2 separate regions of the Homo sapiens genome follow, and region 2 is linked to region 1. The links come from fine-mapping of genetic effects on gene expression. A gene starts in region 1. The other region holds a variant in brackets. All regions are shown on one strand. Distances are between the middles of the regions.

Region 1 (5,376 bases):
TGTATGTGACACATGGCAAAAGTGGCTCCAGGTGCAGAAGGTGAGAAAGGTCTAATCCTTTTATTTATTTTTATTTATTTATTTATTTTGAGATGGAGTTTCACTCTTGTTGCCCAGGCTGTAGTGCAATGGTGCGATCTCAGCTCACTGCAATCTCCACCTCCTGTGTTCAAGTTATTCTCCTGCTTCAGCCTCCTGAGTAGCTGGGATTATAAGCACCCACCACCACACCCGGCTAAGTTTTGTATTTTTAGTAGAGACGGGGTTTTGCCATGTTGGCCAGGCTGATCTCGAACTCCTGACCTCAGGTGATCCACCTGCCTTGGCCTCCCAAAATGCTGGGATTACAAGTGTGAGCCACTGAGTCTGGCCCTTCCTAATCCTTTTATATCCCCAGTCCCGACCCTAGGGACTTGCTGGGGTCTTGATGGGAAAGGAGAGATGGGGGATGGACATGATTGTCAGAAGGAGGAGAGTGAGGGGCAAAACTGGTCCTTCCTTTCTTCCTTCCTTCCTTCAACAAATAGTTATAAGGTGAGGGGTGGAGCGAGGGGATAATAGTCCTGAGCAATGAACTGGTTTCCTCAGGTAGACCCCCTGGTACAATGGACAGGTTTCTGGAAGATTCCAGATGTAGGTATCCCTGGGATCTCACCTGGTGGGCTGGGGTACAGCAGTAGGAGCTTCCTTCGTGTTCTCAGGACAAAGCGCCTCTTGTCAGTGGGCCAGTAGTTCCCTGCTTGCATCTCCCTTCTCTCTGAACCTCTCTGTGCGTGCGTGTGTGTGTGTGTGTGTGTGTGTGTGTGTGTGTGTGTTTAAAGAGACAGCGTCTGCTCTGTTGCCCAGGCTGGAGTACAGTGAACAGTGGCTCAATCATAGCTCACTGCAGTTTCGACCTCTTGGGCTCAGGTAATCCTCAGGCCTTAGCTTCCCAGATTGCTTGGACTACAGGCATGCATGACTCTGCAGAACTAATTATTATTATTATTGTTATTATTTTTGAGACAGAGTCTTGCTCTGTTGCCTAGGTTGGAGTTCAGTGGTGCGATCTGGGTTCACTGCAACCTCTGCCGCCTGGGTTCAAGTGATTCTCCTACCTCGGCCTCCCGAGTCACTGGGATTACAGGTGAATGCTACCACGCCCAGCTAATTTTTGTATTTTTTAGTAGAGATGGGGTTTCACCATTTTGGCCAGGCCGGTCTCTAACTCCTGACCTGGAGTGATCTGCCTACCTTGGCCTCCCAAAGTGTTGGGATTACAGGCATGAGCCACCATGCCTGACTTTTTTTTTTTTTTTTTTTTTTTTTTTTTGTGGAGATGAAGCCTTGCCATGTTGCCCAGGCTGGTCTTGAACTCCTGGCCTCAAGTGATCTTCCTGCCTCAGCCTCCTAAAGTGCTGAGATTACAGGTGTGAGCCACCGTACCTGGCCTTGTAGTCTGGGGTTGGATACCCAATCTCCTCATAGCTGCCTTCCAACCTTTGGTCTGGAATCTCTCCTCTGGCTTTCTGACTTTGGCCACAAGTGCCCCTCAATCCTCTTGAACTTCTGGCCTTCTGGGCTCCCAAGCATCTGGCTACACCTGAAGCTCCAGGTTTAGGACATCGTGTCTATCAGCCGTGGCTCTCCAGGACCCCTCTGGTGGAGCCGCGTGCCCCTGCCCCCAGCCAACCCACCAGGTTTGGAGGATTGGATAAGGGCTGGCCAGACCCAGTGGATCTGTCTGCAGGTTTCCACATGACAGAGGAGCCACGAAGTTCTCTTTTTAGAGAACCCACGGTGGCTGTGTACAGAGAGGTACTTCTCAGAAGCTGATGATTCCTGTGACCCCTTGCATTGTCAACTGCCTCGAAATTTCACCCTTTCCACCTCCTTCCTCTTTTTTTTTTTTTTTTTGTTTTTGTTTGAGACAGAGTCTTGTTCTGTCACCCAGGCTGGAGTGCAAGTGGCACGATCTCGGCTCACTACAACCTCCGCCTACTAGGTTCAAGCGATTCTTCTGTCTCAGCCTCCTGAGTAGCTGGGACTACAGGTGTGCGCCACCACGCCTGGCTAATTTTTGTATTTCTAGTAGAGACGGGGTTTCACTATGTTGGCCAGGCTGATCTTGAACTCCTGATCTCGTGATCCGCCCGCCTTGGCCTCCCAAAGTGCCAGGATTACAGGCCTGAGCCACGGTGCCCAACCAACCACCTCCTTCCTCTTTTAGTCTCTTTCACCCATGGGAAGTGACTGAAGGAGGAAGTTCAAGGGCGAGAGTGAGTACCAGCAGAAGGCTGGGAGTCTGTAGTTTGTTCCTGCTGCCAGGCTCCACTGAGGGGAACGGGGACCTGTCTGAAGAGAAGATGCCCCTGCTGACACTCTACCTGCTCCTCTTCTGGCTCTCAGGTGAGCGGGCCTGGGTCTGTCTTCTTGGGGAAGCTTAGCAAGCAGGAGGAGGTGGCTGAGAGAGGGAAGAAGGGACCCGGCCAGAAGGTGTCCTTAATGGCATGAGCCTTGTGCGTTTCATCCACATACCCACCATTCACCTAGCATTTCCGTTGCCAAGGCAGGAATACAGGGCATGACCTTCATAATGAAGCCAGTGCAAGGCAGAATTCCTGACCCCCAGGGGCTGATCATGTGAAATGGACAGACTGTAGGCCCCGCCGGCCAGGGAAAAGCAGAGGAGGAACATGGGCTGCTCAGGAGAGCAGGCGACTGCCTGATCCTGGACTGGGTGATCTGTCACCTGCGTGGAGGTGTTCTGAGCAAGGGCAGGCGTCAGGGAAGAGGTGAGGCTGGAGGACTTTGAAAGGAGGGAAGAGGGAGTTTGCTGGGCAGAGAGGGAGTGGTGGTTCTAGGCATTTGGGGCAGAAGGAAATAGTAGAAGTTGCTGAGGGACGGAAAGGTCAAGAGGAGATAAGACTGGCAGGGACGTAGAGGAAAGGAGGGACTGAGATGTGGGCAGAGCCAGAGGGCAGGAGACACCTTAAGTTGGTGCATACAATTTTTATTAAAAATGAAGGGAGGCCAGGGAAAGAGGCTCATTCCTGTAATCCCAGCACTTTGGGAGGCTGATTGCTTGAGCTCAGGGATTCGAGACCAGCTTGGGTAACATGTGGAAACCCTGTCTCTACAAAAAGTACAAAAATTAGCCAGGTATGGTGGCATGTGCCTATGGTCCCAGCTACTTGGGAGGCTGGAGGCTGAGGCATGAGGATCACTTGAGCCCAGGAGTTGGAGGCTGCAGTGACCTGTAATCACACTACTGCCTTCCAGCATGGGTGACAGAGCGAGACTCTGTTTCAAAAAAAAAAAAAAAAGAAAAAAGAAAAAAGAAAAAAAAAGAAAGAAAACAAAAAAATAATTTCAAGAAGTGAGAAGTGATAAGTACTGTGAGGAAAACAGAACAAGATGATATGTTACAGTGGGACCCAGGTAGGGGGATGCTGTAAGTCAGGTGGGCTGAAACAACCCCCCTGAAGAGGGTCCCAGATGCCTGTCCGAGCCGAGACCTAGGAAAAGGATCAGACACAGGATCGGGACCAGCTTTCCAGGCACAGGGAACAGTAGATACGAGGGCTCTTGTGTAGGAATGAGCTTGGACTGGGCACGTCTGAGGAAGAGGGAGGTCAGCACGGCTTTGCCTCATGCTTCAGAAGATCCTGGTGGGACAGATTGGAGAAAAGGTCTTGGGGAAGAAAGTGACTTGTCCAGGACTGCTAGGCTGGTACAGGAAGAGCAGGGAGTGGCTCATGGACACTTGGCCCCGAGTTTCAGCATGTAAGTGGAGAAGGCAGACTTTGGGTGAGATGTTATGAAATGCATTGGCACAGTGAGACCAGGACAGGTATGGCTGCTTTTTTTCTGACACCTGGAAATGAGAGAATTTGGTAGTGAGCAGATGTGAGAGTCGTGTTGGGAGTGGGAGTGGTTTGGGACCTCTGTCTGAAGTGGGCAGAAAAGCCAGCAGGCACAGCTATGGGCGCCAACATGGAGCCCGGATACCACTGTGAACCTGCATGCATCAGCTCTTGCCAGCCTCTCCTGCAGAACTTCCACCCACAAGCAGCAAGTGTGCTTACCCTGTTTCCCTCTTCTAAATAATTTATCGTTTTAAAACACCCAAGAAAAAAAATACCCATCCGGAAGTTTGTTTTCTGTGAGAAAGGAAGGTTTTTTATTTTTTTTGAGTTGGGGTCTCAGTCTGTTGCCTAGGCTGGAGTGTGGTGGCATGATCATAGCTCACTGCAGCCTCAACTCCTGGGCTCAAGTGATCCTCCTGCCTTGGCCGTCTGAGTTGCTGGGATTAAAAGCATGAGCCACCGTGCCTGGCAAGAACAGATTTTTTGTTTTTTTTTTTGAGACAGAGTCTCGCTCTGTCACTCAGGCTGGAGTGCAGTGGCGCGATCTTGGCTCACTGCAACCTCTGCCTCCCAGATTCAAGTGATTCTTCTGCCTCAGCCTCCCAAGTAGCTGGGATTACAGGTGTGCCAGCATGCCTGGCTATTTTTTTTTTTTTTTCGTATTTTTAGTAGAGATGGGGTTTTACCATGTTGGTTAGGCTGGTCTCGAACTCCTGACCTCAAGTGATCCACCCGCCTTGGCCTCCCAAAGTGTTGGGATTACAGGCGTGAGCCACCGCGCCCAGCCTCACTGTGCTTTTTTTCCATAAGTCTTTATTGTTTCTGTTAAAGTTATTCCTAGGAATTTAATACACTTTTATTGCTAATGTAAATGAGCACTTTTCTACTTTACTTTCCAACTATTTATTAGCAGTTTATAGGAAAGCCATTGATTTTTACATGTTTATTATTTAGCCACTCTATTAAATTCAATTATGAATTAAAATACTTTTTCATTTAAAATTAAAAAATTTTCTCTAACTTTTTTCCCTTTTGATAATTATACATTTTATGTTTTTCCTTATCTTCCTATATTGATTAGAATTTCCAGGCTGGGCACAGTGGCTCACGCCTGTAATCCCAGCACTTTGGGAGGCCAAGGCAGGCGGATCACAAGGTCAGGAGATCGAGACCATCCTGGCTACGGTGAAACCCCATCTCTACCAAAAGTACAAAAAATTAGCTGGGCGTGGTGGTGGGCGCCTGTAGTCCCAGCTACTCAGGAGGCTGAGGCAGGAGAATGGCGTGAACCCGGGAGGCGGAACTTGCAGTGAGCCGAGATTGAGCCACTGCACTCCAGCCTGGGCGACAGAGCCTGACTCCATCTCAAAAAAACAAACAAACAAAAAAGAACTTCCAGAATCATGTTATTATATATATTGGGAATTCATGTTTTGTTTATGATGTCAATAGGAATGCCTATAGTATTTCACTGTTAAGAATAATTTGGCTGGTGATGCATGATGGCTCAAGCCTGTAATCCCAGCAC
Region 2 (5,376 bases), 26 kb after region 1:
GTCAAATATGTCTGAACCAAGTAGGTAAATTCTTATTCAATTTCACAGGAATTGGTAATTGGTCAGTTCATTGAAAAAGTTTGTTAAACCCGGAACTCATAAAAGAGATATACTGTATTTTTTCTTTTCTTTCTTTCTTTTTTCTTTTTTTTTCCAGACAGAGTCTTGCTCTGTCACCCGGGCTGGAGTGCAGTGGCGCAATCTTGGCTCACCACAACCTCTGCCTCCCGACTTCAAGCGATTCTCTTGCCTCGGCCTCCCAAGTAGCTGGGATTACAGGCATGTGCCACCATGCCTGGCTAATTTTTGTATTTTTAGTAGAAACGGGGCTTCACCATGTTGGTCAGGCTGGTCTTGAACTTCTGACCTCAGGTGATCTGCCCACCTCGACCTCCCAAAGTGCTGGGATTACAGGTGTCAGCTACCACACTCGCCCACACCTGGTTAATTTTGTATTTTTAGTAGAGACAGGGTTTCACCATGTTGGCCAGGCTGGTCTTGAACTGACTTCAAGTAATCCATCTGCCTCAGCCTTCCAAAGTGCTGAGATTACGGGTTTGAGCCACTGCGCCAAGGCTATTTTTCCTCTACATGTTTTATTTTGACTTAAAATATCTAAATGTGTAGTTATTAGCAAGTATTTTGATGTAGACCTAAAGCCTTTGCTTTGCTTACAAGTCTGCTGAAAAGTGGGGCCCATTGCCTTTCCTGAAGCACAAACCACACACACATGATCCTGGGGTTTCAGTTCCAGTTTCTTTAACATGAAGCAAGAAATTCTAGAAACTTATGAAGCCACCTGATTGCAAAATCTTTCTTCATTTTTATGCATTTCTTTCCGATATTTTACAGTTCTCTCATTCATTCCTAATTTGATAGCATTTTAAAAAGTGACAGGCTTTTATAGTGTCTTTCCAAAGCAGTTTAGTTTTTGTAGAGATAACCGTTCTCTTTTTTTTTACACTCTTATTTTATTGGTCAATAGTCTTTCTGTTTAAATTCCTTTGTATTTTCTTTTTCTTTTCTTTTCTTTTTTTTTTTTTTGAGGTGCAGTCTTTCTCTGTCACCCAGGCTGGAGTGCCGTGGCGTGATCTCAGCTCACTGCAACCTCAGCCTCCCAGGTTCAAGCAATTCTCCTGCCTCAGCCTCCCAAGTAGCTGGGATTACAGGCACCTGCCACCATGCCTGGCTAATTTTTTTGTATTTTTTAGTAGAGACAGGGTTTCACCATGTTGGCCAGGCTGGTCTCGAACTCCTGACCTCAGGTAATCCCCCTGCCTTGGCCTCCCAAAGTGCTGGGATTACAGACGTGAGCCACCACGCCCGGCCAATTCCTTTGTTTACAGGTGAATTGATTCAAGTACATCATTCTAGTTAACACGTATGACCAGCATAAGCAAGTATGGGCCCAAATGCATTCTTGTTAACCAGGTACCACAACTGTGAGAGCAGAGAAGAGCCTGCCAGCTGTGAGCACTCTGTGCCTCAGGCTTAGTCAGTGTGCTCCAGTAAGAGACTGAAGGGTATTGGTTGACCTAATAAGTTGGTTAAGTGAGGGGTTGCTTAACAAAGTTTCTATTCAACAATCCATTGTCACCATAATTTCATAAAAGAAAGGAGCTTTGAGCACCCCAAGTCTCAGGATAATAGACAGTATTTCCTAAGAAAGGACAGTTGGTAACTTTATGCCAACATCTACTGATGTGTGTGTATCGTTTCCTACACATCAGTTGGTACTTGTCAGGGGCTGGTACTTAGGTATGGACTGAGAATTGGCAGCCATGGATCCGGTTCACACTGTTCTCCAGGCATGGACCCGCTCCATCACATCTCCGCTGGTGTAGTGAGGCTTCCCCTGAGGGCCTCTAGTGACCCTCTTTGTTTGGAGGCTGATGAAGGTTGTCACTAATGAGAGCTGTGGAGCTCTCCAGTAGTTGTGAAAGGGACCCTTGAAGCAATCAGATTCCCCCTGCCCCAGCACAAGCCCCTTCCCCAAAGTAGTCCACTGTGACCATATCCTCACATGGCTCTGTCCTGAGGGTCTGCAACTCTTGCATCAAGAAAGGGTGACTTGGCTGGGTGTGGTGGCTCACGCCTGTAATCCCAGCACTTTGGGAGGCCGAGGCAGGTGGATCACCTGAGGTCAGGAGTTTGAGACCAGCTTGGCCAACATGGTGAAACCCCATCTCTATTAAAAATACAAAAATTAGCTGGGTGTGGTGGCGGGCCCCTGTAATCCCAGCTACTTGGGAGGCCGAGAAAGGAGAATTGCTTGAACCTGGGAGATGGAGGTTGCAGTGAGCCAAGATCGTGCCATTGCACTCCAGCCTGGGAGATAGAGCAAGACTCCATCTCAAATAAATAAATAAATAAATAAATAAAAATAAAATAAATAAATAAAATAAACTGAATAAATAAAAAGAAAAGGTGACTGACTCATTTGTTTTTCTGAAGGTACCTCTGAGGAGGGGCTCAGAATTAAGGGAGGGGAAAGACTGTCCCCCAAGGTCAGAAATACAGGAGGGACATTCTGCACCCTTGTGTAGTAGAAATCTGCTATGAGCAGAGCAGAGCACTGGCACTTGTTGGCATTTACATGCAGAATGCTGCCCTCTATCAATGACGCAGAGGGTTTCCACGACAAAGAAGCAACAGGTCACAGGCCCTGATCTCAGCTATACTGCCCGGTGCCTTCCCTCAGTTCAGTGGAAAGAGTTGTGAAATTCAGACGGTGCACTTATTTCAAACTTCACACAGCCTCTGCAAAATTAATAATAAGCAAAGAAGGACTGCGACCCAGAGACCTTGCATCCTTGCACTGTAACATCCAGCTGTCTGGCAGGTGGCAAGGGAAAGAACCAGTGGAGATGTAGGTACAGTAAGTCAGCTTAAAATACTAGAAGAGGCTGGTTGTATGGCTCATGCCTGTAATCCCAGCACTTTGGGAGGGCTAGATGGGTGGATCATTTGAGGTCAGGAGTTAGAGACCAGCCTGGCTAACATGGCAAAACCTCGTATCTACTAAAAAAAATACAAAAACTAGCTAGGTGTAGTGGTGTACGCCTGTAATCCCAGCTACTCGGGAGGCTGAGGCAGGAGAATCACTCGAACCCAGGAGGTAGAGGTTGCAGTGAGCTGAGATGGTGCCACTGTACTCCAGCCTGGGCAACAGAGCGAGACTCCATCTCAAAAATAATAATAATAGGCCGGGCTTGGTGGCTCACGTCTGTAATCCCAGCACTTTTGGAGGCTGAGGCGTGTGGGTTGCCTGAGCTCAGGAGTTTGACACC[A/C]GCCTGGCCAACATGGTGAAACCCCGTCTGTACTAAAAATACAAAAAATTAGCCAGGCATGGTGGCGTGTGCCTGTAACCCCAGCTACCTGGGATGCTGAGGTAGGAGAATTGCTTGAACCTGGAAGCAGAGGTTACGGTAAGCCGAAATGGCACTACTGCACTCCAGCCTGGGTGACAGAGTGAGACTCTATCTCAAGAAAAAAAAAATATAACAAGATATGAGGGCAAATGGGAGAGAACGTGGAGATAGAGTGAAGGAGAGTCTGCCCAGGGGCAGTGCTGGTGCTTGCAAAGCTTGGCTTGCTTTCCTGGGCTTCTTACCCTGCACTTGGGTTGATGGAGGCAAATCCCCAGGGGATGCTGTTGTTTGCTCCTCCACTCCTGAGACCCAATTAACGGTGACTAACTGCATTTGGGCCTGCTTCATCTGAGCAGCTCTGCACGCAGGGTCTTGAATCCACTTTGTGAATGAATATCTCCCACTGGCATTGATTTTGCTTTGGTGTTTATCCTGGGCCAGGCTGAGATTGTCACCTGGGCTTCACTAGCATTTCTGGAGGTCAGTGATAAAGGGGTTTGGGGGAGCTTCCAGTCCAAGCCTTCCCTTTCCTAAGGACCTTGGGAATCTAGGGAGGGATAAGGAGAAGAGTTAGGGTCTGGAGTTGAAGCTTGGATTGGGGTTTCTCTTTTATTCCCTGCTGAGTGCCCTTGAACAACCACTGAATGTCTCTCAGATCTCTTTTCTCTTCTACGAAATGGAGTGTAACTAAAAGTGCCGCAGACCCATCAGGCTGTGATTTCAAAGTAACCAAACTAGGGCTTGGAGCAGTGGTTCACGCCTGTAATCTCAGAACTTTGGGAGGCCAAGGCAGGCAGATCACTTGAGGTCATGAGATCGAGACCAGCCTGGTCAACATGGTGAAACCCTGTCTCTACTAAAAACACACAAAAAATTAGCTGGGTGTGATGGTGCACACTTGTAATCCCAGCTACTTGGGAGGCTGAGGTGGGAGAATCGCTTGAACCCAGAAGGCAGAGGTTGCAGTGAGCCGAGATCGCGCCACTGCACTCTAGCCTGGGTGACAGAGCAAGACTCCATATCAAAACAAAAACAAAGTAACCCAATTAACCTTCTATCCCATGGCTATCTTGCAAAGTGGATCCCAGCTACCTATAGGAGCCTTCTTTTTTTTTTTTTTTAAGGCAAAATGTTAGCATTTAGTAAATATAGATGGTAGGTACATGTGTCATTTTCTTTTTGTTCTTCTAGTTTTTGTACCTTTCTATGAGTTTCAAAATTTCAGAATAAACCATGAATTTTCACTTATCTATACAATGGAATTCTATGTAGTGATTAAAAAGAATGAAGGTAAAAATGTGTATAACAAAATTCCTATGATGGATCTATCTATCTATCTATCTATCTATCTATCTATCTATCTATCTATCTCACACATATGTATAAATAAACACATGCATGTATTTTTACATGGCAATTTCATCTTCTTTTTTTCTAAGGCAGAACCTTGCTCTGTCACCCAGGCTCGAGTGCAGTGGCACAATCTTGGCTCACTGCAACCTCTGCCTCCCAGGTTCAAGTGATTCTCCTGCCTCAGCCTCCTGAGTAGTTGGGGTTACAGGGACCCGCCACCATGCGCGACTAACTTTTTTGTATTTTTAGTAGAGACAGGGTTTCGTCATGTTGGTCAGGCTGTTCTCAAACTCCTGACCTCAAGTGATCCAGCTACCTCGGCCTCCGAAAGTGCTGGGATTATAGGCGTAAGCCACCGTGCGCAGTCCATTTTTATTTTTAAGATATGTATTTTGAAACACTGGCATCACAGGAAATTTTTTCTTTGTTTTTCATTTTTCAAATTTTGCAATTAAATATATTAATAATAATGGCTCTCTTGGCTGGGTGTGGTGGCTCACGCCTATAATCCCAGCACTTTGGGAGACTGAGGCAGGTGGATCACTTGAGGTCTGGAGTTCATGACCAGCCTGGCCAATACCATCTTTACTAAAAAAAAAAAAAAAAATTAACAGGGCTTCATGGCACACATCTGTAATCCTAGCTGCTCAGG

Direction of the effects. Alleles are on the strand shown, and positions count from the first base shown. SD is a standard deviation of normalised expression in the study named.
For the expression in adrenal gland of the gene that starts at base 2,289 in region 1, allele C in region 2 goes with a lower level than allele A (moderate effect, 0.46 SD a copy in GTEx).

What was found. PIP is the estimated chance that this variant, and not a neighbour inherited with it, causes the effect. A credible set is the group of variants that fine-mapping cannot tell apart.
Region 2: its variant is the best candidate, but not a certain one, in a credible set for the expression of CD300LF in adrenal gland (GTEx, PIP 0.71).

Annotation. Positions count from the first base shown.
Region 1 is chr17:74,709,836-74,715,211 of GRCh38, reverse strand. It overlaps CD300LF (CD300 molecule like family member f), which reads left to right and starts at 2,289. Exons shown (of 7, transcript NM_139018.5): 1 at 2,289-2,388. The coding sequence starts at 2,346. It also overlaps a transcript of RAB37 not described here.
Region 2 is chr17:74,684,221-74,689,596 of GRCh38, reverse strand. It overlaps a transcript of RAB37 not described here. Among named protein-coding and RNA genes, the nearest start is that of RAB37-AS1, 9.3 kb to the right of the region's middle. The variant A/C (reference allele first, on the strand shown) is at 3,291.